Linked DNA regions of Homo sapiens. The protein of the gene in region 1 purifies or fractionates together with the protein of each later gene. This does not show direct contact. Each region holds a gene or a part of one and is shown in the gene's direction. Other genes may lie near its edges.

Region 1 (7,857 bases):
GACTGTTTATAAGCTTCTGATCAAAGTTTACTCCCTCTTTTTCTTCCTAGGAATAAAAACGGCCTCTTTGTCAGGGCTCAGCATCAATACTTACTGACAGCTGCCTGAGATAAGCAGGTTAACCTATTCTACACGCATTAAACATCCACAACTGTGTGCAAAGCCCCATCACGTGGGATCGAAGCCATCACTGCGCTGCTCAAAATGTGAGAGGAAGTTCCCCGAGATCTCTTACCGCTGCACACACTCCTTCACCACTTCATACTGGCCAATGGAAGCAGCTGTGTGAAGATCCAGGGGGACATCCAGCTCCTCCCCGCTGACCTGTGTCCCGAGCCCGTGCCACATGGACAAGCTGCGGTTCAGGAGTTCCGGCTCGCTGGCTTCATCGCTGAGCTCGGACATCACTGAGGAGGAAGGCCCAAGGGTTAGATCTTTCCTGGCTGGTTGTTCCAGGGCATGAAACAGGCTGGTCCTGCCCCTGCTACACCACTGCACTAGCAGACTGATAACCCAGTGCAGTCAACCCCGGGAGTAACTCAGACAAATTTATTTGCTGAAATAATGTATGCTTTGGGCAGTCCCAACCATGCTAAATCTGGTGAGCCTGCTATCACACCAGTAAAGAGGAGCACATATGGTGAGGCATTAACTGTGGAGTACCTGCTCCTCCTTCCAACCGCAGGCACCAGGTAAAAGAGAATTCTCCACCAACTCTAGGAACCTGACAACCTCTTGGATGGGCAGTGAAGAAATGCTAATTGGGTTGTTTAACCCAATCAGTTCCTTGATGTGGTGGGGAAGAACCCTGGATTTGGGGTTTGATCAAAATTCAGCTTGGACCCGGTGCGGTGGCTCACACCTGTAATCCCAGCACTTTGGGAGGCCAAGGTGGGCAGATCACTTGAGGTCAAGAGTTCAAGACCAGCCTGGCCAACATGGTGAAATCCTGTCTCTACTAAAAATACAAAAATTAGCTGGGCATGAAGGCCAGCTACTCGGGAGGCTGAGGTAGGAGCATCACTTGAACTGAGGAGGCGGAGGTTGCGGTGAGCCAAGATCACGCCATTGCACTCCAGCCTGGGAAACAGAGCAAGACTTTGTCTCCAAAAACAAAACAAAAAAAAAAAACAACAAAAAAGCAGCTCTGCTACTTAGCAACTCCAATCCCTAGTGCCTCACTGTCTAACGGGGACATATCTAAAAAGGCTGCTATTATGATACATAAAAGAATGGATAAACAAACGGTGGCACATCCATATAATGGATGCTACTCAGCATTAAACACAAGGATCCAACAGTTGACATGCAACACGTGAATGAATTTCAAATGATTTACGCTAAATGGAAGAAGCCTGCCTACAGTATAATTTCACTTACATGACATTCTGGAAAAGGCAAAATTAAAGGGTTGGAGGTTGGGGCAGAGAGGGAATTTGGGGGACGATAGACCTGTATGACTGTGACGGTGGATCTGTGACTCCATGCCTTTATGAAACCACAGAACTGAACACCAAAATGAATTTTACTGTATGTAAATTTTATTTATTTTTTTGAGACAGTCTCGCTCTGTTGCCCAGGCTGGAGTGCAGTGGCATGATTTCAGCTCACTGGAACCTCTGCCTCCTGGGTTTAAGGGCTTCTTGAGCCTCAGCCACCTGAATAGCTGAGATTACAGGTGTGCGCCATCATGTTAGGCTAATTTTTGTATTTTTAGTAGAGACGGGGGTTTCACCATGTTGGCCAGGCTGGTCTCGAACTCCTCACCTCAGGTGATCCGCCCGCCTCAGCCTCTCAAAGTCCTGGAAATATAGGCGTGAGCCACTGCACCTGGCCTGTAAATTTTAAATATAAATTAATTTTTCTGGAATGGTTATGAAATTGAAAATTTCAAAAAAGTAAAAATAAATTTTTCTGAAAAAAATAGAAAGCAATTCCCCAACAGACAAACCAGGATGTGACTGGTGGCACGCAGCAACCGTCAACTGAATAGGAATCCACTTAGGCATCCTTTGAAGAGAGAGCTATGGGGGGAAATATAACAGGCCGGTGAACTGGTGAGGTAACACTTTCCCCGAGATGGGCCTACATGGGTAACGGCACACCAGGAATCCCCAAATCAAGGCAAGGTCATCAGCTTCCTAGTAGAATCCTTAGGTACAAGAGTGCCAGGAAACAAGGGTAGGAAAGGGAGCAAAGGCGAAAACAAAGGCCTTGTCAGGTTGTGATGACCTACAGGTGCTATGGTAGTTAATAGATGCGATGAGGACCTCAGTTTCTATTAAAGAATGCTTCCAAGCCCCAGGTGACAGCCAAGATGGCTAAAGAAACAAGCCACCAATGTGGGAGACGAACACTTCACAGACCCTTGGTGAAGAGTGTGTGTAGGTGCGGTGGGGCAAGCAAAGCCCTCCTTCCTGGAGCCACCACCTCTTCAGCTAGCAGAGCCCAAGATCGTGCAGTGCCCTTCCCTCACTTTGCAGGTGAGAATCCCACCCTAACAGCCCTGGCCAACGAAGCCTGGATAAGAAACCAAACGAGCTGAGGGTCAGTTCAGAGTCCCTTCCATACCTCCCTCAAGCCTTCACTGGGCATGTCTCTTCCACGCCAAAGGCCTCCTGCAGGGTGAGGCCGTGTTCTCTATTTACTGGAGACTTGCATATCTGACATCCCCAGAGGTCTGAAGGACAATGAGAACCAGACCAAGCGTGACGGACCACTTGAGGCCAGGAGTTCGAGACCACCCTGGCCAAAATGGTGAACTCCCATCTTTACTAAAATTACAAAAATTAGCTGGGTGTGGTGGTGGGCGCCTGTAGTCTCAGTACTCAGGAGGCTGAGGCAAGAGAATCGCTTGAGCCTGGGAGGCGATTGCAGTGAGCCGAGCTCAAGCCACTGCACTCCAGCCTGGGCAACAGAGCGAAATTCTGTCTCAAAAAAAAAAACAAAAAAAAAACACTAAAGTGAAAACTAAAATGTCCCATCCCGAGTGGTGTGGTGTAAAGTAGCATTAGAGATAAGACGTTTTAGTTTTCATTCAACTTTTTGGTTCTGTCCATTCTGAAAATGCTAAGTATCTGTTACCTTTACAGTGAATCCTAAAGAAAATGTGGTACTTAGACACAATGGAGTACTATTCAGCCATAAAAAAAGAATGAGATCCTATCATTTGCAAAAACATGGATGGAAGCGGAGATCGTTATGTTTAGTGAAATAAGCCAGGCACAGAAAGATAAATATTGCATGTTCTCAATTATTTGTGGTTATCTAAAAATCAAAACAACTGAACTCATGGACATAGAAAGTAGAAGGATGGTTACTTCTAGTGTAACCAAGGCTGGGAAGGGTAGTGGAGGGTGGGGATGCTTAATGGATACAAAAAAAACAGAATGAATAAGATCTAGTATTTGATCAAGCCACTGCACTCCAGCCTGGGCGACAAAGCGAGACTCCGTCTCAAAAAAAAAAAAAAAAAAAAAAAGATCTAGTATTTGACCGCACAACAGGGTGACTATAGTCAATATAATCTAATTGCACATTTTATTTATTTATTATTATTTTTTTTGAGACATAATCTCACTCTGTTACCCAGGCTAGAGTGCAGCGGCGTGATCTCGGCTCAATGCAACCTCCGCCTCCTGGGTTCAAGCGATTCTCCTGCCTCAGCTTCCCGAGTAGCTGAGATTACAGGTATGAGCCACCATGCCAGCCTAGTTTTCGTATGTTTAGTAGAGACGAAGTGTCCCCATGTTGGCCAGGCTGGTCTCAAATCCTTGACTTCAGGTGATCCGCCCGCCTTTGCCTCCCAAAGTGCTAGGATTACAGGCGTGAGTGAGCCACCGCGCCCGGCTGCACATTTAAAAATAATTCAAAGAGTATAATCATATTGTTTGTAACACAAAGGATAAATGCTTGAAGGGATGGAGACCCCCATTTTACATGTGATTATTACGAACTGCATGCCTGTATCAAAATCTCTCATATACGCCATAAATATATACACCTACTACGTACCCACAAAAATTAAAAAATTTTTAAAAATCTTAACAAATGTGATGCTGGTGGTAACTGTCACGCCCACAGAGGAGGTCTGTGAAAGCACCCAGGCACCCCCTCTCGCCCCGTGGAACCGCATCGCAAAGGTAGCTCACTGGCCCCGGGGCGGGTCCCTGGCCGACAAACCCGTAACTCACAGCAGTGACGCTTCCCGACGCCCCCCGGCCACATCCCCACAGGAACGCTACGGCGCACAGGGCATTACTGTGCCCCCACCACAACCACATAAAGAAAATGTGGGGGCTCGGTCCTCCAGTCACGCGGCGAGCAAGTGCAGCGCGGGACGCCCGAGCGCCGGGTCTAGGCGGGCTGCAGGTGCCGGCAAGTGCTGGGGCCGGGCCGCCGCGGAACCCACCTGTGCTGGGCCTCAGGCCTTGCGCCGCCCTCGGGCTGCCGTCGCCAACCCCCCCCAAACAGCTCGCCGCCACGCTCCCTCGCCGGGGCACCGCCCCCGGCACCCGCCCCGGAAGTAGTTGCGGGAGGGCGCGGAGCACGCCGGGAAGCTCGCGGGTCGGCACCGGGACAGCTCCCGGGCGCCGTGGAATGCACACGTCCCGCACCCGGACCTTCCGGTCAGCTTCCCGGCTCGCTGTCTGATGCCCGCGGTAGCCAATGAGCTAGTGGTGTTTGTCCTGCTCCGTCCCCGCCCTCCAGGGGAACCAATCCCATTGCAGGAGAGGCAGGACGCGCAAAGGCCCGAAAGAGGAGCTGGGCGGGGTGGGGGGAAGGCGGAGGCAGTCTAGTAATGTAAAGCTCCGCTGAGAGGGAGAGTGCTGAAGAAGGGGACAGCCTCTGTACCTGCGGCGCGGCCCGAGGGGCGGACGCGAGCGGAGTGACGCGCTGGAGGCTGTTTATAGCGCTGTCAGGACAGCGCGGGGAGTGGAGGCAGAGGCCTGAGGTGAGGGGCCTCGGGCCTGCTGCGCCTGCAGGGAGTTGAACAAAACGCGGGGAAATACGGGCTGGGGGTGGGTGAGAGGAGGAGCGATGGGCTTTCCACTTCCACAGCTTTAAAATTTAAAAGCTCGACCCGGGAGGCTGTTGGCGTCTGGTTGCCATAACAACCGGCAGCCTCGTGGCAGGCCGGCTGGGGGCGGGGCTCTGAGAACCGGGGCGGGGCTGTGGCGGGGCTAACAGGCTGCAGCTGAGAAACCCACCCCGAGACGGAGCCGGAAGGCCGTTATTCAGAGGCGGCTCCGAGCCTCCCCTTCGCCTTCTGGATGCTCTGAGCTCCTCAACTTGGCGTTCAGGGCCCTGCATTGTCTGGTCCGTTTTCACCGGAGAGTCCAGCAACTGACACTTTCTTCCCTTAAACCTGTTGGGCGGTTCATTCCTTTGAGCTACTGTACATGCTCTTCCTTCTGCCGGTAATGCCGTTCCCTCCCCTATTGTCTTGTCCGCCTGAAGGGTTTATCAGAGTCTCTGGAGGCCCTCTTCATCCCGACGATTCTGTTGCCCTAAGAAATACTGTGCCCTGAATTGCGGAACAGAGCTCTAGTTACAAAAAACACCCGCTGGCTGTGTGCACCAGATGCGTCCCCAACCCGCTGCTCCCAGTTCAGAGTGCACCAAGCACCTGCCCTATTCCCAGAAGTACAGAGGAAGCAAGCAGCCCCCAATTCACATCTCCTGCCGCTGCCCTGATTGGGGATGAACGGGCACTGACTGCAGGGCCAAAGCCACAGCGGCCTCTCGAGCTGCAGAGTTCTCCTGACACTGGCTCTAGAGGACCCTCACCCCCCAGCTCTCAAGCTCAAGCTCCCCAGCCCCCTGAATAACAGGACCATCTCCTTTAAGACTCTAAGATATAAATGCAGGGGCTGGTCAGAGTAGTGACTCCAAAAAAAAAAAAAAATCACTTAGTGACTCCAAACTGTCAGCCAGGCGCGATGGCACATGCCTGTAATCCCAGCACTTTGGGAGGCTGAGGCAAGAGGATCACTTGAGGCCAGGAGTTTGAGACCAGCCTGGGCAACAGGGAGACTCCATCTCTACAAAAAATAAAAATGTTAGCCAGATGTGGTGGTACACACCTGTAGTCCCAGTTATTCAGGAGGCTGAGGTGGGAGGATCACTTGAGCTCAGGAGGCCGAGGCTTCAGTGAGCTATCATTGTACCACTGCACTCTAGCCTGGGCGACAAAGCCAGACCCTGTCTCCAAAACAAAAAAGCAAGGTGTCTTCTGTTCCTTGGTAAAGGGCAGTAAAGGGTAGTAGGACTTGAAATTCCCCCTGATTCAGAGTCCACTGTTGCTATTTACTAAACACCCTGAGCCTATGAAATGAAGAGAATAGTTATGCTATATGGGGTATATATAAAATATACCTATATATCATTATATATCGTACATATGGCATTCTATATAACATGTACATATATCTACATAGGTATATTTATATCAATACATATATTTGTATATTATTATGTATATATCACTATATACATTATATACCTGCAGGCTCCACATGTGTGCATGAGTGGGAACACACACACACACGTACACACACAGTGCCTGGCACTAACAGGAGCTTGCATAACTAGAAGGAAACTGAGGCAGGTGGTGAGGCCTGCCAGCCTGTTTGGTCTCCTACAGCTGGTAGAGCAGCCCCTGCTCTCCTGACCTTCAGTGGCCCGGACCCTCTTCCATCACCCTGTGTACCCCACAGAGCTCCCCGGATTATGGTGCACTGAGAAGGCATCTGGAAGCCTGGGCCCTCATGGCATCCAACGATAAAGGCATGGCACCCTCGCTGGGCTCTCCCTGGGCCTCCCAGATGGGGCCCTGGGATGCCATCCTCAAGGCTGTCAAAGACCAGCTCCCGTCTCTGGACTCAGACTCCCCTTTGGTAAGCAAGAACTCTCTCCCTGGATGCCTTGTCCTTCCTACCAGAGCAGGCATGACGCTGGCCAGGACAGCTTTGGAGCACTTCTCTGAAGACTTTTCCTGCTGACCTGTGCAGTTTGTTGTCATTTTACTTTAAATCGCATGGCCAGACTCAAAGTTGTGTTTTCTGGGTGCCTATTTCCTTCTTTACTCTTTCTTCTGCCTTGATTGTCATCTCTGAGCATGGGTATTGGTGCTCAGCATCTTGGGAGACCCTTTCAGTGGAGTTTTTGGTGCTGACTTGGAACCCAGGTCAATTTGATGCAGAAGCTCTGTCCTTTCCATTCTGCTATTCTCCACTCTCTCGTGCCAGGACAGGGCCAGAACACCCACTGAGAATGCACAATTCCAGTGCATTGTGATAAGCCTTCGAGGGATTCTGCATTTGTGGTTTGGGGTCCCTGAAATGGCTCTCAAAGACGCTCAGACCAATAGCCCTAGGTGCAGGCATAAGACCCTGCTAAAGATGCTCCTGGCGGGGGCTGCTCAGTGCACAGGTTGGCACTGGGCGTTAAGAGACAGTATGAGGGTTTTAAAAGGAACGGGCAGGGTTTGGGTCCTACCTGGGCACCAGCAACAGAGCTTCAGGGACCTCAGACGTCATCCAGTGCATGACGAGGCTAAGGAGAACCTAAGGGGACCCCACGCCTCAGTGCTCAGGGTGTTTTCACACCTTCAGTCTCATTTGAGAGTATGAGCCCCAACCCCTTCAAGAAGACAAACTAAGCTGTGTAAGTGATGGCTCAGGGTCACAGGGGATGGGGAGGGCTGGACCCTGCTCTTTCAGCTACCACCTCACTGCCCTGTTCATGTCACGAGGCATTAATGAAGCACCTGCTGTATGCGAGGTACTTGCAGAACCAGGAGCCCCAGTCTCACCTCCACGAGGTTGTGCTGCCAAGCCCATTTCTAAACGGTGG
Region 2 (7,158 bases), on another chromosome or scaffold:
CTGGAAATAAACAATGTCTAATGAGATGGGGTCCCTGCCTGAGAGAAGCTCATGGCCTAGTGGGGGACACATGTCTTGCCATCTAGTGGGCGAAAAGCAATCATTCAGAGGCCACGGTGACCAGCTTTGCCTCAGGGAGTCGGGAAGGGCCTTGCAGAGGCTGTGATCTGTGGCAGGCCCTCACAGAAGCTCAGAAAGGCACGCGAGGACAGGCAGGAGGAAGCGCGCTCCAGAGGAGGGCCAGCACGTGCGAAGGCATGGAGGCATGAAAGGCCCTTGCACCTGGGAAGGCCAAAAAATCACCATATTTTTGCTGCTTTTTGTCTACAGACCAGCTGGCTATGGACAGGGAGGCTGCTTGGCTCTTTCCCACAAATAGGGAGGTTGGAGCCAGGCACTAGGGCTTGACCCCAGAAGGTGTCAGAGCTCCCAGAGTCCTTGCCTCTCTGCCCCCTGGGGCCATCTGCACCCTCTCCTCCCATCCTGCCTCCGCTCCTTCCCAATTAGAATGAAAATTGGCTCCTGTAATGCTGATGTGCCTACTTTCTTGTTAGAATCTTAATACCGTATGAATCACAAGTCCCAGCTGCCTTGGCATGGTGGTCAGGGTCAGAGGTTTGAATTAAAGCAACACATGGTCCTGATGGCTTCATCTGGGGGATGCTGAGGTAGGGGAGAGGCTGCTCCTCCTTTTCCACCGATAATGCGAGTACCACCAAGGCTGCTGACCGCAGCCTTTTCCCTCAGAAAGTTCTAAGCACCTTGTAACACCCCCTGATAATAAGAGTATTCGTACCTTTTATTGAGCATTTTACAAGTATAATTTCATTTATTTGTCAGATGACTTGCTGATGTGTAGTTAGGTGACGTGCCTGAGATTTCATAGCTAGTCATAATAGAGCCAGATTTTGAGACCTCCCATCTCGGGGACCTTAGACAGCTCAAGCACCACTTTCTAATACCACTCCAATCAAAAGGAATGATTTTAGCCTGAGGATGCTGGATGGCTTGATCTTCTGCCATAAGAGCCCCCAAACCTCCCCTAGCTTCCAGGACAAAACTCTGACTTATTCAGACGTTCGCCACACCTTAATTGCATGCTGGGTGCCAGGCACAGGGCTGTGGCCTGAACAAGTCCTAGGGATGCATAGACTCAGCCATCCTGTGGCCTCCCTCCCAATGGGGTCACGACTCTCTTCCCACTGCCACCCAGAGCCTTCTCATTCTTTAATGTGACCTGTTCAGTCTTCCCCACCACTGCATTTCTCTCCTTCTTAGCCTCTACAGGGCTCATCACCCAAACCACAGCATTGAGTGCTGTGCTTTTGCTTTCCTTCACTCAGCAGGCATTTGTATGTCATTTGTATGTGGAAGGCACTGGGGATACATTCAGTATCCCAGTGCCGTCATGAAGCACAGTCTGAGAGAGGGAGACAGATGCGTAGTCAGTGCACGGGCTGCAGCATGTGGGGGACTGAGAGAGACACCTGCCCTGCTCTCTTTCTCACCTCCACTCAGTCCTATAAAGTGGCATCATGAAGCAATGGAAGAAAGACTGGACCCAAATCGGAAGACCTGAGCTGGTGCTACCATCTGGGGGACACTGGAGGAGTCATTCCATCTCTTCATCTGCAAAGTGGGAATAACAATACCTAACCTGCCTGCCTTTCAGAGTTTCAATGATGTGCTTTATTAAATAAAATGATGATTTTTTAATGAATAAAATGCATGAAAGCATTTTACAGGTTATAAAGCACTATACAAGTAGTACTCTTCTGTCTCCTAGCCATGCCTAGCATAAATCTGGGCACATAGTAGATATTCAGTAAATAGCAGTTAACTTAAATTGATCCATTCACCCCGCCTACCACCTTCTATGGGCGTTTGAGGCCATTGGAAACCCTAACACTGACAATGCCTGCCCTGCCTGCTGGGGGCGGCAGTGAGGATCAAGTGAGAAGGATGTGCCTTGGAAGCTGTCAGTACTGAACCATCTTGGTCTTGGGAAACCTCCCTGGCTCCCCATTGTGGGGGCTTGGCTGAGGACTGGCCAGCCCGGGATGTGGAGTCTCGGGCATGGGGCAACCTTCCTCCAAGCCCTAGGTCCATTCTCTGTGGGGAGCAAACATGACACTTCCCCAATTTTGGTTCCCAAACCACTCGGGCTGCCTGGCTCAGGATAGTGCCCATGGCGTGGGCACAGTCCCTTGGGGGGGCCAGATCAGCATATGCCCAGCCCTCACTAGTCTCCACCTCTCGTTTCAGCACCCCTACCCCACGGAGGATGAGAAGAGGCAGATCGCAGCCCAGACCAACCTCACCCTCCTGCAAGTAAACAACTGGTGAGTTTGCATCACCTGCATGCAGGCTCCCAGATCCAGGGGCCACCTTCTGGGCAGGGGAATGCGTAGCAGGGAAAAGAGACTCGAATGCCAGGATCTGCCTCAATCTCAGCCCAGCTACCATGCCAGTCCCCCCATTTAGGCTAGAAGCAGAAAGCAAGAATCAACACTGGCACCTGTGGCTTCATCTGCAGCTTCTCAGCGCCCTCTGCTGGGACATTGTGTCAGGCACATCCCTGGAAGCTTCTTGAGGAAGAGAAAACCCACGCCCACCTGAGCACCCAGCCCACCTGCACTTCAGAGACAGACAGGATTGCCCGCAGCTGTGCACCGGAGGCCAGTGGTCATCTGGTCTTCCCCACCCCCATGTGAACTGAGACTAAAACTAGCTGCAAAGCTGGGAGTGGGGAGAGGGAGGAGGAGTAGCCATTCTGACCCCACAGGGATCTCAGCTTTCCCAGTCTCTGTGCCTGGCTGGGCTGTCAGGGGAGCTCAGAGAGCAAGGTCTGGCTGGATGGAAGTAGACCCCAGAGCTGAGGGCCCTGATCCGAGCCCTTGGCTCTCTGGAGAGAAGTCAGAGGTTAGTGCCTATGACTACCATGCTCTCCTCCTCCGTTCAACCTGGAAGGTCTTGAGCAGGGATTTCTGACCCCCCATGCATTCTTCCCATATGACTTTGCAGTTACCAAGCCCCAGGAAATTTCATGAACTTCTCAGCACCCAGGGCCCTCCTCCTTGCTGGGCTTTTACATCCGGGATGGGAACCCCGGTCTGCTCTGTGAAATGGAGTCTGAAGGCAGCTTCACCCTCCCTGCCCCCACCCCAAGGCCATGCAGGTGATGACTAACCAGGTCTCCACTTTACCTCTGGGCAGGTTCATCAATGCCCGGAGGCGCATCCTGCAGCCCATGCTTGATGCCAGCAACCCAGATCCTGCCCCCAAAGCCAAGAAGATCAAGTCTCAGCACCGGCCCACCCAAAGATTCTGGCCCAACTCCATCGCTGCGGGGGTGCTGCAGCAGCAGGGCGGTGCCCCAGGGACAAACCCCGATGGTAAGAACTGGGGCTGAGTGCACCCTAGACAAGGGCTGGGGGTGCTCCTGGAGCTTCTTCAGGTCAAGCCGTGCAAAGATTCAAGGGCTATCTCCTTACCTGGGCTCCCATCGCTGCCATGCCACAGTGATTATCCCTCCCCAAAGCCCTAAAGAAGGGGATGTTTTTGTACATAATTTAACAGACCAGATGCACTCTCATAAAGAAAAGCGGGAGTTGGTGGTCACGCAAGTCAGTGACTGCTCAGCAGAGCCCCCCATGTCCGCACCCATCTGAGTTCCTTAGCACCAGTAAGTATCTGCACAGCTCTTCAGGAGCCAAGGCCATCTATAAATATCAAGGCAGGCAGCTGGCTCGTGAACAGGGGCCAGGAAGAGCTCTGTTTTCCCAGCCTCTCCATCACACCCTCCATATACACTTTTCTAATTGCCAGTCGCCTAGTGCACAATGAATAATTCAATGAGCCAAGCATTTTATAGCTTGGCATATGAAGATAGCTCTGTATGGGGAGTGGAGCGTAGGTGTGCGTGTGTGCACACATAACCTCATGCACACGTGTATGTGTATGGTTGTGCACAGGTTCCTTTGTGATGAGCCATCTTATGGGTTATGATGGGAAAAAAAAAAACAGATTTAGGGGGCTGGACCAGCCTGGGAGAAAATTCCAACTCTGTCATCGCTGACAATGTCATCTTGAGCTAATGACTTAACTGTCTGAGACAGAATGGGGATAATAATACCTGCCTTACAGAATTGTTAGAAAGTCAAAAGTGGCCAACACATAAAGAAAATGTGCAGTGAACGGTGGCTGGGAGTGCTGCTTCCTGAGATGGGGCAGGGAGTAGCTGACTAGTGAATGGATGGGAGACTTCATACCAGGGCATTGTCCAGCTCAGGCTTGGACAGCTCTAAAAACAAGGAGTTCACTGCTCTATGAGCCAGTCCATTAAACCCTGTCCAACACAGAGGTGCTGGCCCTGACCAGCAGCCCCTGCCTCGTCCTGACCCTTGCTTTCTCTCGCAGGTTCCATCAACTTGGACAACCTGCAGTCCCTGTCCTCAGACAGTGCCACCATGGCCATGCAGCAGGCTATGATGGCTGCACACGATGACTCATTGGATGGGACAGAAGAAGAGGATGAGGATGAGATGGAAGAGGAGGAGGAGGAGGAGCTGGAGGAGGAGGTCGACGAGCTGCAGACGACAAATGTCAGCGACCTGGGCTTGGAACACAGTGACTCCCTGGAGTAGTCGGGCAGCCCAGATGGCACTGATCACTGAGCAGGAGAGGAGTGTCGCCGGGAGGCCTTCAGGGTGGGGGGGAAGGGGACATGGGCAGGAAGCACCGAGGGAGTTGGGCCCTAGCTTCCCCAAATCAGTAGCTTGAAGAAAGGCAAAGGAGACACCTGTTCCTTCCCAACCACCGAGCTTCAATGAGGACCCCAGCCCCACTTCCCTGGAACTGCCGAGGACTCTGTTTGGCGGGGCCAGTCGAGCAGCCTGTGTGGAAAGACAGGAGTGAGATCTGGACTCACCAAATCCCTGAGGATAGATGGCACCCATGGCCCCCACCCACGGAAGGACTTGAGTTGTTTACAAGCCCTGCACTGAGGCAGATTGGTGCTGTTCGCAGAGTAGGCCTTTGCCCGGGGGCAGACTTAGAAGGAAGGGGAGAGACAAAGGGGGACTGAGTTTCATCCCCAGAAGTTTCTCAGCTCCTTTGACAGACATTCAAGGGCAGGAGGGAGCCCCAAAGCATAACCAGTGGCCAGAGGAGTGGGAGGGCCTGAGGCATCACATCTTGCAGATCAGAATGGGATGGAATCCACCAGGCTCCAGCTCATCCCTCCAAGGCCCTGTCTCTGCGCACAGCAACCATGGACATGGGAGAAAGGGATGGGAGCCACAGTGCCCTTCACTCTCTCCTGGAAACCAACTGTAAGCTGGTGGGCTCAACCTGTGGGAGGTTAAGAGGAGTCCCTTCTGGGTTGACTCCAAGAGCCAAGGAGATGGCAGACCCTGGGCTAGGAACCATATGGAGGTGACTTTGAGGCCACAGCTGTCCCTAGGTGATCACAGAACTTAGCTCCTTTAACAACAGGACAATGGTTTTTTACCCTAGATGTTCCCACCTTCAGTGCTCCACGCCCTCCATAGACCTTCAGAGAAGGTGAAACCAGGTTATCTGGGAATCTTTCCAGCCCGCAGGTCGCCACGGCCATCCCTTTGCTCCCAGCCTGGCTCCATCAGCCTCCAGCTTCCTTTCTTCATTCTGTCCTTCAGGGAAGGCAGAAGAAACATTGGAAAGCATCTAGTCCAGTGGGAAGCCAGGGGTTGGAGAAGGTGCTACATCCCTCTTCCCATCAATATCCTAAATGTGGGGGAGGGCCCAGAGAATGGCACCCAAGAGCCTGCGGGGATGCCCATCCCACACACCCCACCCAGCTGTTCTAACCCTGCTATCCACAGCCCTGGAGGAACTGGGGCTCCTGGAAGGAGGAGGAGGCTCTCCACTGTCCACCCTAACACATACCCTCCCACCCACCTTCCAGACCCCCTTGGTTGGCACCCTCTCCTCCGGTTCCCTCTCACCCCATGGCTGTGAATGACAGGACAGGTCACACGTGTGTTTTCCATTGGGTTTAATTTAATGGACGTGCAGTTTCATTTGTAAATTGTGCATTGGCCACCTCCTTCAGTGGCAGGATGTGAGTGGCTACCTGGCTCAACTGGAGGGGACCCCTTGGGCCCTCTGGGGCTTCCCCTCCCCCACCTGGTTGGGGTAGAGCAAAAGGATGGTCACTCTTCCGAGGTCTCCCTGAAATGAATGTATTTCTCCCCCAAAAGAGCTGATATTTAATGTTTTAATAAGGATTTTTGAGAAACAAATAACCTTATTTATAATCTGGGTGATCCAATCATTTTTTACTCCCTTTTGATGCCATACATAGAGGAAAGTCTAGCTTTTTTGGCGTGAGACTTTTGCAATGTGCAGTGGGATAAAATGCATTTCCTTTTCTGGTTCGTTTTTCTTGTTAACACGCGCACACAGACACACACACACACCGTTCCACTCACCACCTGGACAGGCGTCCCCCAGCACGGACACACTGGCACACAGGTGCCCACATCTCTTCCTCTCAGCCCCTCCACCTGCCTAATGTTATGCAACCTCCTTCTGATGTATCCACCAAACCAGTACTGAATGTGGCCGAGACGTTTTCAGTAAATCTTATTACCTACCGTAACCCTGGTGCACAATTCTCTTTCTGTGGTTGCTGTGGCAATCCTTTGCTCTTTTCATGGGACCAGAGGCCAGACAAAATTTGGAGGCCTCAGTATACACCTGACTACCCAGGGAAGGGGACAAGGTAGATGTGCGTCCTGCGTGAGCTCAGCTGCCCTGTCTGGGGAGGAAGAGCCAATTTCAGCACACTCACCTTGTGTGCGGCCGGTTGTAAGGCAGAGCTAGGGAGAGAAGGCAAGGAAGCTCTGCACTGCCCTCTCCTGACAGCTTCCCCGACCGCAGCGGAAGCTATGAATCTGGTCCCTCTTGTCCACCATACTCCACCTCCCTCAAAGGCTTTTGCTTTCCTGTCTCCATTCCCGGCCTTGAATCCCAGGGATCAGCACCATAATCCCCCAGGCAAGAAGAAACTCAGGCAGCTGATCTCCACACAGAAGTGAGAGGCAGGCCTTCTTGTCAGCTCCAGACGAGAGGGTACCTTCTTTAGCCACACTTGCTGAGAGGTCTGGGGCATCT
Region 3 (6,420 bases), on another chromosome or scaffold:
CCTGGGTGACAGAGCGAGACTCCATCTCAAAAAACAAAAAACAAACTATGCTAGACCGTAGTTTGCTCTGTGGGTAAGATTTGGGTTTAATTTAGCTTCCCTCAGGGGACTTAATTCTTGTCCCTGTTACATGAATAAAATATGCCTTTGAAATACATTTTGTGATAGTAAGGACTTCCTGGTACTCCCTTAAAGTTTAAAGGGCAATGTTGTAATTTTACATGATGCATTTATTTCCAGAGGATGTCTACAGTTGCTTTCGCTTCCTACGTGATGTTTTTGCAGATGAGTTCATCTTCCTTCCAGGAAACACACTAAAGGTAAAGTGCTTACAACAAAGAGCAAGTATGTTTGCAGTGTGAGTTCTAGAAATGTTAGGGGTGAATTCACAGATGTGTCTCAGGCAGTGTGCCATCCCTTTCTTCAAGGCAAAGTGGGGCAGACTTCAAGAGAAACTGGGGCGCTCACAGTTCAGCAGACTCTAGTTTGATTCTTGATCAAGTTTAATTAATAACTTAGGGATTATATGGTGAGAGGAGAGTCATTCTTTGAACTATCAGTGTGGCCATTACAACTAAACTAACTTTATTTTAGTAAACGTTTAAAAATCAGCACACAGCCGGGCGCAGTGGCTCATGCCTGTAATCCCAGCACTTTGGGAGGCCGAGGCAGGCGGATCACGAGGTCAAGAGATCGAGACCATCCTGGCCAACATGGTGAAACCCCGTCTGTACTAAAAATACAAAAATTAGCTGGGCGTGGTGGCGCATGCCTGTAGTCCCAGCTACTCAGGAGGCTGAGGCTGAGGCAGGAGAATCACTTGAACCCGGGAGGTGGAGGTTGCTGTGAGCCAAGATTGTGCCACTGCACTCCAGCCTGGTGACAAGAGGAAGACTCCATCTCAAAAAAAAAGAAACCAAACACAACAAAATCAGCACACATTTTCCTGTTAGCAAGTTGTTAGAATGAGTCACCCAGGCAAGTGCCTTTTACTTTGAGAGTAGTGAGTGCTGGTCCTGCCTGGTCTAGACAGCTGAGGGGTCATCAGGCTCGCAGAGCTGGACTGCTGCTGGGTTGAAGTGGGAAGTGACAGTAGATGAGAGGCATGTTAGGTGTTTGTGTGCTTTAAGGATAAGAGGTTTGATTCTGTAGGGAGTGGAACAGGAGTGTTGGAAACTTTTTTTTTTTTTTTTTTTTTGAGGTGGAGTCTGGCTCTGTCGCTCAGGCTAGAGTGCAGTGGCGCAATCTCAGCTCACTGCAAGCTCTGCCTCCCGGGTTCACTCCATTCTCCTGCCTCAGCCTCCCAAGTAGCAGGGACTACAGGCGCCCACCACTACGCCCGGCTAATTTTTTATATTTTTAGTAGAGACGGGGTTTCACTGTGTTAGCCAGGATGGTCTCGATCTCCTGACTTCATGATCCGCCCGCCTCAGCCTCTCAAAGTGCTGGGATTACAGGCGTGAGCCACCGCGCCCAGCCAGAAATTTTTTAACCATAGCATAATTCTAAGTATTTTTAGGACTTGCTGTATGTATTTCCTATTTAAATTAAGGAGTGGTTCTGCAAAGTAAAAGAAAATCCATCACCCAGGTTGTGATTTGTAAGGCTCAGAAATGTTGTGTTTGAAAACATTTTGAATGTAGAGCAGATGCTTCTCTGGCTACTATCTCACAACCAGAATTGTTCTGGAGGTTGGGGAAATAGCTGGTATTCTGTTGTCTGAGGGCATGTGGCTGCATATATTCAGATAGGCAGTGTATCCATTAACCTAGATGAGGGGGTACATGTATTCAGATGGGCACTATACCCATTAACCTAGATGAACATTATGGCTTCCTCTTCCCTTCTAGGACTTTGAAGAAGGCTGTTACCTGCTTTGTAAAAGTGAAGCCATACAAGTGACTACGAAAGACATCCTAGTTACAGAGAAAGGAAATACTGTGTTAGAATTTTTAGTAGGACTCTTTAAACCTTTTGTGGAAAGCTATCAGGTATGTAAATTTGGCAAGTTCTCCTTCATGCCCCCCATATCAAATATAATAAGACATTCTCACCCTGTGCTTATTTCCAGTCTGAAGGGCAGGTATCTTCCCCAGGCAAATGGAAGAAGGAGAGAGAGTGACTAATACGATCAGTGATTTCACCTCACCAGTGAGACCTTGCTCCCCGCATTCAGGAGGAAGCTTGGTTCATTACAGACCCAAGAGGACAACAGCTTAGTGATGCCATGGTCACAGTATTCACAGGACCACAGTTACACCCACGCATCATCTGTCATACTGTGTCTCATGTCTTAATGAGGCCTTCATGTCAGTCAATATGTAACCTCGAGGTTTGATATATATCAGGCACTCAGTAAAGGCAAGACTTGAGTGATACATAAAGTCAGTTACAGATTACCAGATGTTTATGTTGGAAAGAAAAAGTTCAAGTGCAAGTTCTGAAAGCGTTTGTCAGAGCTCTTGGGAGTAGTTAGAGAGATGGGATGGTATGTTGCCCAGCAGGAATTGTGGCAGGACTCAACGGGAGAGAAAGAGTCTGAAACATAAACTGTAGGAAGGACTTCCACATGCTTGAGAGAAGAGGATGCTGTGACTCGGCTCTGTTCATATAATACATGCACTGGCTCTGGGCACCTGGACCCACTTCCTGGTGCTTGTGGTCCGTGAAATAACTCATTCAGCCTCCTTGCACAAAGTCTAGCACTTACTGAGCATTTGATAAATGCTAGTTCTACCCTTAATCACTGTTCTACAGTAGAAATCATCAAGTATTTTAGGGCATGGTACTTTCTTAGGTGTATTTAGAGAAAAAAAGCAAAGTTATTAAAATCTGACCCCTCTCTTCCCAAGTAGCATAAGAGATACGAAGCTGATGGTAATTAACTTGTACCCCTTGAAGTGAGAAATTATACTTTAATAAATGTCATTATTATTTTAAATCTTTTTCTAATTGTAAAATGTAAACTCAAAGGAGATGCCCTAAAAATTCTTTGGTTTTTCTGGGCTCATTCCTTGGAGGGTCTTTATGCTGCTCTCTTGTGATATATCCTTCTCTTAAGAGGGGCAATGTAAAGTTATTTACTATTCTGTTGAACTTGGCTATCCTTTTTCTCTTTCTGTTCCCCTCATCCTTCCTCTTAAAATCAGATAATTTGCAAGTACCTTTTGAGTGAAGAAGAGGACCACTTCAGTGAGGAACAGTACTTGGCTGCAGTCAGAAAATTCACAAGTCAGCTTCTCGATCAAGGTCAGTCACTGCTCTGTGGGTGCTGATTTCTTTTAGTTGAGAATAGAAACTGGTCAACTAACTCTTCCTCACCCCCAATTTTAGGTACCTCTCAATGTTATGATGTATTATCTTCTGATGTGCAGAAAAACGCCTTAGCAGCCTGTGTGAGGCTCGGAGTAGTGGAGAAGAAGAAGATGTAAGTACTGTACAAGATCCCATGAGTGCTCAAGGAACAAGGAAATGAATGACATTTGAGCTCAAAATCCAGAGAGACATAGAAATGGATGATCTAGGAAATGCTATATTCTACTTTCCTTATCCATCCTCTAATTAGTTAAGTCAGTGTGAGTTATCCTGAAAATTGTATGTGGTTATGAATAGAAATGCAACTGAAGCAAAGAAAGGAAGAAATAACTTTAGGCCAATATTTTTGCTTTGACTTAATGTTGAAATTTATAATTACAAGAAAGATTTTCGGGAGTGTAGTGGGCATATGAGTGTAGACACACATAAATACACACATAATACATATATAGATACATACCTGTATATGTATATATAAACATATAGATGTATGTTCTTCTAAGTGGTTGAATTTAACAGTGATAAAGCTTAATAGTAAACTCTGGCAGTCATGTCTCTTATGTGGTCAGAAGAATGAAGCAAGAAGCCAGGAGGTGGGACAGGAGCCTGAGGCCTTTCGACTACTTAGGCCCAGCCTTGAGGAAGGCAATTGAAAAGTAGTCTTACAATAGCTACGTCAGGAACAAAATATAAAAGTTGTCTTTTCCCCAGAGTTTATGTAATAATAAAGCTTATTATTTTCTCCTAGAAATAATAACTGTATATTTAATGTGAATGAACCTGCCACAACCAAATTAGAAGAAATGCTTGGTAAGTGCAGTTTAATAAAATACAAGTTTTCACATTTTGTTGATGAATTAAAATAAGAAAGTATACTGTGGCACCAAATACTTTATCAAAATGATCAGTAAGTAGTAGAGTTCTAACATAAAAGGGAATTACTTATGCAGTCTGGAATTTTCTCAAGGAAGCTAACGAGAAAGCACAAAGAAAATTAACAAAACACAGCAGGCATAAAAGAAGCAGTCTTACACAGTAGAAAGAGTCAGTCCCTAACATGACTGGTCTCAGCCAGAGGCCCAGACCCTTCACATCCTTGCCTCAGAGAGAGTACCTCATCTCCACTCTTTGTTTGATGCTCTCACTGTCTGTCTTGCATTGCTTCTTTCCCAAGTGAGAGATTAGTGTCAGTGTCTCTATCATGTAGACTTTCTGAACTCAGAATTAGGGCTGATAGCACATCCTTGGGAGAATAATCCAACCCTTACTCTTCTCTAGAGCCTATCAGCTATGAAGAAATAGTCTAGTCCAAAAAGAGTCCTTGAGTGTTGTCTTCCTTGACATAAGAGTCCTTGAGTGTTGACATAAACAGAGGTACAATCAGAGGGGGTCAAGAACACTTTTCCTAGCAATGATGCGGCCATTTTAGAAAGGAGGGTGTTAACATTTGGAAAAAATAATCTGCTGATTATATTGAATGGCGTGATGTCCTTGAGTGGATCGTCTTCCAAGTACTGTTTTTGTACCTAATCTTAATTCAGTACCTCGTCAAACCTGCATGGAAGAGCTTTAGATAAATGTCTGTTGGGATTTGCGGAAGACCAGAATGGGGCATACGGAAAAGGAGAATGGATGAAGAAAAGGGTAGAAGGGCAGTGGGGTAGTTGTTGCATATCGGGAAGGCGGAAGTACTAGACCTTGTAGAAAAAAATATGTAGGTCGAAATCCCAGTCTTCTATTTATATCGTGTCTGAAGAGGTGCATATACCTAAAACAACCACAAACACCTCGCCCTGTGAGGGTGACGGAATCAATTACTTAATCACGGAAAGCAGATGTGATGTGAGCGTGAACATACTGGACTGGAGTTCAGAAAACATGACGGGGTTCAACTCCTGGCCCTGGCCCTGTGGCTCTGGCCATGCTGTCACCTCTTGGAGCATCTACCGCTTCCCTTGTGGAGGGGGCTGGCGTCCCCATGGGTACTGGCCAGCCTGTGAAGCTCTGCACAAGTCTCCAGCTTCTCCCCTGGACAGTCGCCCAAGGAACAGCTGTATGAGGAAGGGCAAAATCAGCATCATTTCATGAGCTGCTTCTCTTTTTTCATCTTAGGTTGTAAGACACCAATAGGAAAACCAGCCACTGCAAAACTTTAATAATCAACAAATAGTTATGGAAAATTCGGTCACGTAATTACTCTCATCGAAGGACTCATTACAACAAACAGGGAAGTAAAGGAAGAGACACATCCTCTCATACTCCCTGAGACTCTGAGAACAGTGGACGCAGAGGGAAGAGATGATCATTGGAAGCAATCAGTTTACTCTTCCCCACCACAGTGGTTAAAAGGCGTTTGTATCTGACACTATGTGTGTGTTTTAAAATAAACTTTTGGAAACATGTTTGGAAAAGCAAAGCTCAGCTCATTTCACTAACACTTTTCAGCTTACTATATGTATTAAACTTTTATGTTGACTTTTGAATTAAAGTATGACAACACTGAAAGCTCTGGATATTAAAAGAAAATGAAAAGGGCATATCTACGTTACTTGTAGCTTGCTTTAATTAAAGTTGCCTCAAACAAGTACAAATTTGAAAGAGATATTTAATAAATTAGCTAGCTTACTTTAAATGTTGGCCACCCTAGGGCCTTAATTAACAAAAATGAATTAGTCAAGTATGTGCAACAAAAAGATGCTGTGTGATGCACCATAAATATGTGTAAGAATTCAAGAGAAGAGAAATTTAGAGTAAGTAGGTAACACCAGAAACCTTGGCAAGTAGCCACCTCTGGAAGTGACATGTAAGCTGAGAACTGGATTGAGCAGGAGCCAGCCCCTAGAGTGGCAGGGTTGGAGTGACGGAGGAAGGGACAGTGGAGTGCAGTGTGCCAGGAGAAAATAGTGATCAGGACGTCCTGGGGCAGGTTCCAGAGCTCCCAAAAGATCAACATGGCTGGAACAAGAGTCACAGATAGTGAAATTGAAGACAGAGGCAGGCGCATTAGTCAGTTTCAGGGTGCCATAACACAACAGCTTAAACACAGCTTAGGCAGCTTAAACACAGACCTATTTTCTCACATTTGTGGAGACTGAAAGTCCCAGA
Region 4 (7,639 bases), on another chromosome or scaffold:
AGTACCCACAGGATATCGCTCTCCCAACAGTACTGGGAGTGTTGCCAAACTGGGAAGCTCACCTGAGACTTTGTGTCCAGAGCTGTGGTTAGGGGTTGATCACATAGGCGGGGAGTGCCCATATGGCTGACCTGAGTTACTCGGTCTCCAGCTCCTTCAGAGCTCAAGCTCATGACCCAAGGCCTCAAGTTAGCTTAGACTAGCTGGTGTGGTCCAAGGCCCCCACATAAGCAAAGACACTCTTATCAGGTGGGATATTCCAAAAGGTCTAGGGCCAGTCCCTTTTTTGGAACATGCAGGGTTGAACACACTAGGCCTGCTGCACTAGCCCCATCCTGCACAAATCTAGATGAGTTTCAGAACACAGAAAGTGAATGCTGGCTGGGCGCGGTGGCTCACGCCTGTAATCCCAGCATTTTGGGAGGCCAAGGCAGGCAGATCACTTGAAGTCAGGAGTTTGATACCAGCCTGGCCAACATGGTGAAACCCCATCTCTACTAAAAATACAAAAATTAACCAGGCATGGTGGCACGTGCCTGTAATCCCAGCTACTCAGGAGGCTGAGGAAGGAGAATCACTTGAACCCAGGAGGCAGAGGTTGCAGCTGAGATCGCAGCATTGCACTCCAGCTTGAGTGACAGAGTGAAATGCTGTCTCGAAAGAAACAAAGAAAGAGAATGCGGAAAGAAAGAGGGAGGGAGGGAGGGAGGGAAGGAAAAGAAAGAAATTGCTCCCTGTATCAGCTCCTGCCCAACTCTAGGCCATACCCAGTTGTGAACTCACTCAGCCAACTCTCATGCCTGGCTCCTTCTCACCCTTTAGGTTGCAGAGCTGGACTGTTATCTTGTCTCTAATCACCCTCTTTAAAGTTAGGTTCCTCCTTTTTTTTTTTTTTTTTTTTTTTTTTGAGAGGGAGTCTCGCTGTGTCACCCAGGATGGAGTGCAATGGCGCTATCTTGGCTCACTGCAACCTCTGCCTCCCGGGTTCAAGCGATTCTCCTGCCTCAGCCTCCCGACTAGCTGGGGTTACAGGCACCCGCCACCATGCCTGGCTAATTTTTGTATTTTTAGTAGAGACAGGGTTTCACCATGTTGGCCAGAGTGGTCTCGAACTCCTGACCTCAGGAGTCCTGCCTGCCTTGGTCTCCCAAAGTGCTGGGATTACAGGTGTGAGCCACCGCACCCAGCCTGTTGTTTTCTTATACACATTTTCCCCTTCCTTTCCTTACACAAAATTTCCTTACGTTGCAATTATTCTTGTTTTGGAAAAGGATCTGTCTCCACTATTACAATGTCCACACATGAGTCCCCAGTGCCTGGCCCAGTACCTAAATTTGCATTGAAGGCAAGAGCATGCTGGGCACTTCCCATGTGACCTTACTGAATATTTACAACACCCTCTAAGACAAGTGTTCTTGGAGGTCTGGGATCCCTCATCCGCAATTCTGAAATCTAAAAAGCTCAGAAACCCAAAATAGTTTTCTTTCTTTCTTTTTTTTCTCAGAGACAGGGTCTCACTGTGTGGCCCAGGCTGGAGAGCAGTGGCACAATCACCATTTACTGCAGCCTCAAACCCCTGCCTCAAGCAATCCTATCTCAGCCTCCTGAGTATCTGGGACTACTGGCACACACCATCACACCCACCTAGTTTCTTTTAACTTTTTGTAGAGATGGGGTTTTGCTATGTTGCCCAGGCTGGGCTCCAACTTCTGGGCTCAAGAGATCCTCCTGCCTTGGCCTCCCTAAGTGCTGGGATTACAGGCATGAGCCACTGCACCTGGCCCCAAAATGTTTTTCTTAAAGGTGGTACAAAATCTGACTTCAACAGCTACAAGGCTTTTTCTGATCTTCATTCATCTCGCAGTCTGAATGGTCACCCTGTCTTTGCAGAAATTGTAATCTGTCTGGTTTTGTGGTGCTGTACCATGTCCCAGTGGGAGCACTAAGTCAGATTTTAGCTGTTCATTTTCCATTGCTGCAGAACAAACTATCCCAAATGTTAGTAGCTTAAAACAATAAGCATATATTATCTCATCCAGTTTCTGTGGTCAGGGACTCAGAGCAGTTTAGCTGGGCGGTCCTGGCCCGGGGTCTTCCATGGAGTCACAGTCAGTATGTCAGTGGGGGCTACTGTCTTCTGAAGGCTTGACTAGGGTCGGAGGATACAGTCCCAAAGTGGCTTCTTCACCACAGTGGGCAAGTGGGCGCCGGCTGCTGCCATGAAGCCTCAGTTCCTTGCCACATGGACCTCTTCACAGGGTTACTTGATGATAGGGTGGGTGGCTTCCCCCAGAGAGAATGCTCCGAAAGAGGGCAAGGCAGTAGCCGTGATGTCTTGTGGGAGCTAGCTGCAGAAGTCACACTCCATCATTTCTGCAGTACCCTCTTAGTTACCCAGGTCAGCCCTCTCCAGTGGATTGGAGGGGACTACACAGGAGCATGGATATTGGAAGGAGGGGATCCTCTTTGAAAGCTGGCTCCCCCAGTTATATGTACCTATTTGAAATCCAAAGATCCTCATTTCTAAAATACACATGGCGGCCTGGCGTGGTGGCTCACGCCTACAATCCCAGCACTTTGGGAGGCCGAGGCAGGCGGATCACTTGAGGCCGGGAGTTCGAGACCAGCCTGACCAATATGGTGAAACCCCGTCTCTACTAAAATACAAAAAATTAGCCAGGCGTGGTGGCGGGCGCCTGTAATCCCAGCTAATTGGGAGGCTGAGGTGGGAGAATCACTTGAACCTGGGAGGCGGAGGTTGCAATGAGCCAAAAATCACACCACTGCACTCCAGCCTGGGCGACAGATTGAGACTCCGTCTAAAATAAATCAATACGATACAGTACAGTACAATACAATACAATACACCACACCTGACCCCAAGGCTGTTGTTGGATGAGAGACTGTGGATTGTCACATGCACCTTTTACAGTTGAGGCAGAGGCTCAAGGTAGGTCACTGGAATGACGTGCCCCAGGCCACACATTAGCCTCTAACAGCTCTGGGTCCAGTTTTGTTTTTTCCACTCATGCCCCAGACAATCAATAGGCATTGTTTGTAACCATAGCCATGGGGACTGTAGGCTTGCTGTGCAGCAGCCACTGCACTGGACAAGCATTCCATGCACACTCCACCCTCTAGTCCCCACAACAGCCCAACCAGGTAGGGTGGGCACTCGCTCTGCCCTTCCTTCTGCTGAGAGGAAGCCCAGGCTCTGATGAGTAAGAAGGAGCCTTCCATAGCAAAGCCAGGCCTGTGTAGCCCAATGTCCGGGCCATAAGCACTTGGGTGGCTCTGGCTTTGCTTATAGGCTTGTCTGATTCTACAAGCTTGTGTTTTCCCAGGCTCAGCTCAGGCTTGGCTGTGGATCACATAAGGGAAGAAAGTCAAGAAGCTGCTCAGGGGCGGAGCCTGTGGGCAAGTGCACACACAGGGAAGACCCCTGCCCTATCCTGAGTAGGGAACCTTGGAAAGACCCCATGTGTGCTTGGGCATCATTGTGGGGAAGACTGGGCTGTGGAAAAACACTAGCGTTTGTCTGGGAATTTTGGGGAAGGAAAGGGATGGAAAAGCGAAAGGGTGGGAAGGGGCTGGTTTCCTGCTGCTTCTGCTATATAAGAACAGCATCTAGCAGGAAGGTTGTCCCGTGGGCCCATACTAGCCACCTTACAAAGCAGCGTCTGCAGTGGCTGACGCCTGTAATCCCAGCACTTTGGGAGGCTGAGGCCGGTGGATCTACCTGAGGTCAGGAGTTCAAGACCAGCCTGGCCAACATGGTGAAACACCATCTCTACTAATAATACCAAAAAATTAGCAGGGCATGGTGGCGGGCGCCTGTAATCCCAGCTACTCAGGAGGCTGAGGCAGGAGAATCGCTTGAAACTGGGAGGCGGAGGTTGTAGTGAGCCGAGATCGCGCCATTACACTCCAGCCTGGGCAACAGAGCGAAACTCCGTCTCAAAAAGAAGAAAAAAAAGGAAAGAAAAAAGAAAGCGGCGTGCGGGGCAGGGGGTTGGAGCTCTTTCTGGGCTCAGTGTCCCCAGGTGACGGAACACATGCCACGTGCTTGGTGCGCTGCGAGCTCAGCTCCTGGAGCTTCTGTTGCTGCTGTGGCCGCAAGGCCTGGACCCTCGCGGGGAGATTCAGACCCACACTTAGCTCCAGAGCTTGGGGGTTGTCGTTAAGCCCTTCCTTTCCATCAGAGGCTGATGAATCCCCAAACTCCTGGGCTGAGTTCGACTCTCCGACAACTCCTCAGAGGCGGATGTTTGGGGCCACTGGAATAAGCCCAGCACCAGCTGGGGTGTGGACAGCCTCGGGGGCCAGGCCAACTCTCCCGGACGGGTGCGGACGGCAGGGGCGGGGCCGGGCTGTAGGCGGTGGGAGGGGTGGGGCCGGGCGAGAAGGGGCTGGGCGGGCTGCCGTCGGGCGGGGCTGCGCGGGGAAGGGCGGGGCTGCGCGGGGGGCGGGGCTGCGTGGGGGAGGGCGGGGCCGGGCTGTTGTGGGTGGGCGGGGCGCACCGGGGAAAGTTCCGGGAAGGGCGGCAGCCGGCGGGGCCCGGGCGCGGAAGTTGCCGGCGGCCGCGCGGCCTCCCGGGCGGGCCTACAGCCATGTCCCGGGACCCGGGGTCGGGCGGCTGGGAGGAGGCCCCGCGCGCAGCTGCCGCGCTCTGCACCCTGTACCACGAGGCCGGACAGCGGCTGCGCCGCCTGCAGGACCAGCTCGCTGCCCGCGACGCCCTCATCGCTCGCCTCCGCGCCCGCCTGGCCGCGCTGGAGGGGGACGCCGCGCCGTCCCTAGTGGACGCGCTGCTGGAGCAGGTTGCGCGCTTCCGGGAGCAGCTGCGAAGGCAGGAGGGCGGCGCCGCCGAGGCCCAGATGCGCCAGGTACGAGGGCGGGTACCAGAGGAGCTGCGGGAGCGAGAGTGCGTGTGGCGGCCGCCGGGTCCTGGGTGGGTGAGCGAGCGGGCCCCGGGTCCTGAGGGGTTGAGGGGGTACTGGGTCCTGGGGTTGAGTTGGCCTCGGGTCCTGAGGGGTTGGGGGAGCACCAGGTCCTGGGAGTTGAGGGGGTGCCGGGTCCTGGGGGTGAGGGGGCCCCGGCTCCTGAGGGGTTGGGGGAGCATCAGGTCCTGGGGGTTGAGGGGGTGCCGGGTCCTGGGGTTGAGGGACACTAGGTCCTGGGGGTAAGGGGCCGTCGGGTCCTGGGGGTGATAGGGCAACAGCTTCTGGGGGGTGAGGGGACCCTGGGTCCTAGGGGAGAGAGGGGGACCAGGTCCTGAGTGGGATAAGGGGACACCACGGGCTGAGGTGTGCTGGGTCCTGGGGGGTTTGAGGCGTCACCAGGTGCTGGTGGAGGTGAGGGGGCTCTGGGTCCTGCGGGGTGAGGGTGCAAGGTTCTGAAGGGGATAAGCGAATGCTGGATCCTGGGGGGTTGGGAGGGCACTGGGTCCTGGGGGATGGTGAGGAGGCACTGGGTTCTGAGGAGGGGGGTTGGTGCAGTTCTTGGGTTCTGTGTGTGTGTGGTGTATGTTCAGGTGGGCTCTTAGGGGTATTTTGAGGTTCGTGTGTGGGAACACATTCCGAGGGGGGTGTGTGTATGCTGTGTGTATTCTGTGTGTATTGTGTAGTGTGTATGTTCCGGTTGGTTCTTAGGGGTGTTTTGAGGTGTGTGTGCGGGAGACACATTCTGAGGGGTGTGTATGGTGTGTGTGTGTACGCACACATGTGTGTCTTGGGTCCAAGGTCGTGTACTCATATTGTGTTCTAGAGTCCCTTCCAGCCCTCACCCATGCATGTGTCTTTCACTAGTGGCGCTTCAACTCTATGCTGGGAGCAATGGCAAATGCAGCCCGTGTCTGATAAAGGACACAAATCCTAGGCTGGGTGCAGTGGCTCACGCCTGTAATCCCAGTACTTTCGGAGGCAAGGCGGGCAGATTGCCTGAGCCCAGGAGTTCGAGACAAGGCTGAGCAACATGGTGAAACCCTGTCTACAAAAAGTGCAAAAAATTAGCCGGGCATGGTGGCACGTGCCCGTGCTCCCAGCCACTAGGGAGACTTAGGTGGGAGGATCACTTGAGCCTGGGAGGCAGAGGTTGCAGTGAGCCAAGATCGCACCACTGCACTCCAACCTGGGTGACAAAGTGAGACCTTGTCTGAAAAAATTAAATTAAAAATGGACACAAGGGTCCGGACGCGGTGGCTCATGCCTGTAATCCCAGCACTTTGGGAGGCCAAGGCGGCGGATCACGAGGTCAGGAGATTGAGACCATCCTGGCTAACATGGTGAAAACCCATCTCTACTAAAAATACAAAAAATTAGCTGGGCGTGGTGGCGGGCGCCTGTAGTCCCAGCTACTTGGGAGGCGGAGGCAGGAGAATGGCATGAACCCGGGCGGCGGAGCTTGCAGTGAGCCGAGATTGTGCCACTGCACTCCAGCCTGGGCGACAGAGCGAGACTCCGTCTCAAAAACAAACAAAAAAAGACGCAAATCCTGACTTTCTTCTCTTTGTCCTTGTCTATGATGTTTATGTCTGTTTTTTGATGATAAACTATAACACCACAACAGCAGTATAAGTAACAGTTTTTTTGTGCAATAGTATTTGCAAGCATCTGAAACATTCGGGTGAGCTCTGGCATCTATTATTCCATTTGATTCATGGCTATTATCCTAGTTTGCCCAGGAAAGAAACTAAGCCTGCAAAGGCAGTAGTCTGCGAAAGATAGTTTTTGTCTCCAGGGTTGGCCCCACAGCCTGATTTTAGAGAGAAAAAGAAACATGCCCTTTTTAAAAAAGAAAAAAAATTATAAAACAATTTTGAATATCTGAAAAATAAAGAATAAAATAGCCGCTGTAGTCCCACAGTGCAGGGATGACTAGTGTTAATCTCTTGGCATGCCTTCTTCCTGTTTTTCCTCTGTGTATAAGGTGTGTGTACACTTGGCATGGTTGTTTTCATGCTGTGTATACAGTTGTACTTAATATTAGGTTGTCAGTATCTACATCATTTAAAATACTTTCAGCAGCCAGTGTCTCCCCTACTCCACTCTCTCCCTCTTTCTGGAAGGTACATCCTGACTCACTAGAGCAGAAGGGAAGTTTAGAGGTCACCTGGTCTGCACCAACAGGTTTTAGAGTTGTGGATGCCAGGAGCCACAGATGAGTACAGACCAAGGACCCGGAAGGACACTCCGAAGTCATCTCCAGAATGTTGGTGGGACAGGATGCAGGGACCTCACAACCAGAGCAGTATACTTGCAGTCGGTGGCCATTGGTGTTCCGCTCACATGTGTTCCCTGGTGTCCTGTGTATCTGGCCACTCACCAAGCAGCTTATTGCAGCTTCCTGGTAGCCTCAGATAGAATTAGTTCTGTGTTCCCAGTATTACTGGCCCTGGTCCTGTCTTCCCAACATGTAAGCATGTAGGTTTTGTTTTGGGATTTTTATTTTTTTATTTTTTTGAGACAGGGTCTCACTCTGTTACCCAGGCTGGAGTGCAGTGGCACAAACATGGCTCACTGTGGCCTCAACCTCCTGGGCTTACGTGATCCTCCTGCCTCAGCCTCCCATATAGCTGGGACCACAGGAGTGTGCCATCACACCTGGCTAATTTTATTTTTTTTTTGTAGAGACGGGATCT

Evidence for each region.
Region 2: the proteins of DNAAF8 (region 1) and PKNOX2 purify together in Homo sapiens (affinity purification with mass spectrometry; 2 studies listed by BioGRID and IntAct, with this or other methods). This does not show direct contact.
Region 3: the proteins of DNAAF8 (region 1) and GNPAT purify together in Homo sapiens (affinity purification with mass spectrometry; 2 studies listed by BioGRID and IntAct, with this or other methods). This does not show direct contact.
Region 4: the proteins of DNAAF8 (region 1) and TNIP2 purify together in Homo sapiens (affinity purification with mass spectrometry; 2 studies listed by BioGRID and IntAct, with this or other methods). This does not show direct contact.

Annotation. Positions count from the first base shown.
Region 1 is NC_000016.10:4,729,745-4,737,601, forward strand, and holds the start of DNAAF8 (dynein axonemal assembly factor 8), read left to right. Parts: upstream 1-4,792; 5' UTR 4,793-4,954; intron 4,955-5,213; exon of another isoform or gene 5,214-5,402; coding exon of another isoform or gene 5,403-5,420; intron 5,421-6,719; coding exon of another isoform or gene 6,720-6,770; coding exon 6,771-6,899; intron 6,900-7,857. Other genes in the region: ANKS3 (ankyrin repeat and SAM domain-containing protein 3), read right to left, coding at 236-407, 4,194-4,227. UniProt on the Homo sapiens protein: In cyliated cells, dynein axonemal particle-specific protein required for deployment of ODA to the axoneme. Interacts with outer dynein arm (ODA) subunits.
Region 2 is NC_000011.10:125,426,747-125,433,904, forward strand, and holds the end of PKNOX2 (homeobox protein PKNOX2), read left to right. Parts: intron 1-2,265; coding exon 2,266-2,342; intron 2,343-3,216; coding exon 3,217-3,395; intron 3,396-4,419; coding exon 4,420-4,646; 3' UTR 4,647-6,643; downstream 6,644-7,158.
Region 3 is NC_000001.11:231,272,072-231,278,491, forward strand, and holds the end of GNPAT (dihydroxyacetone phosphate acyltransferase), read left to right. Parts: intron 1-240; coding exon 241-320; intron 321-1,850; coding exon 1,851-1,991; intron 1,992-3,149; coding exon 3,150-3,249; intron 3,250-3,333; coding exon 3,334-3,427; intron 3,428-4,063; coding exon 4,064-4,125; intron 4,126-5,427; coding exon 5,428-5,471; 3' UTR 5,472-5,902; downstream 5,903-6,420. UniProt on the Homo sapiens protein: Dihydroxyacetonephosphate acyltransferase catalyzing the first step in the biosynthesis of plasmalogens, a subset of phospholipids that differ from other glycerolipids by having an alkyl chain attached through a vinyl ether linkage at the sn-1 position of the glycerol backbone, and which unique physical properties have an impact on various aspects of cell signaling and membrane biology.
Region 4 is NC_000004.12:2,753,261-2,760,899, reverse strand, and holds the start of TNIP2 (TNFAIP3-interacting protein 2), read left to right. Parts: upstream 1-4,563; 5' UTR 4,564-4,610; coding exon 4,611-4,886; exon of another isoform or gene 4,887-4,951; intron 4,952-7,639. UniProt on the Homo sapiens protein: Inhibits NF-kappa-B activation by blocking the interaction of RIPK1 with its downstream effector NEMO/IKBKG.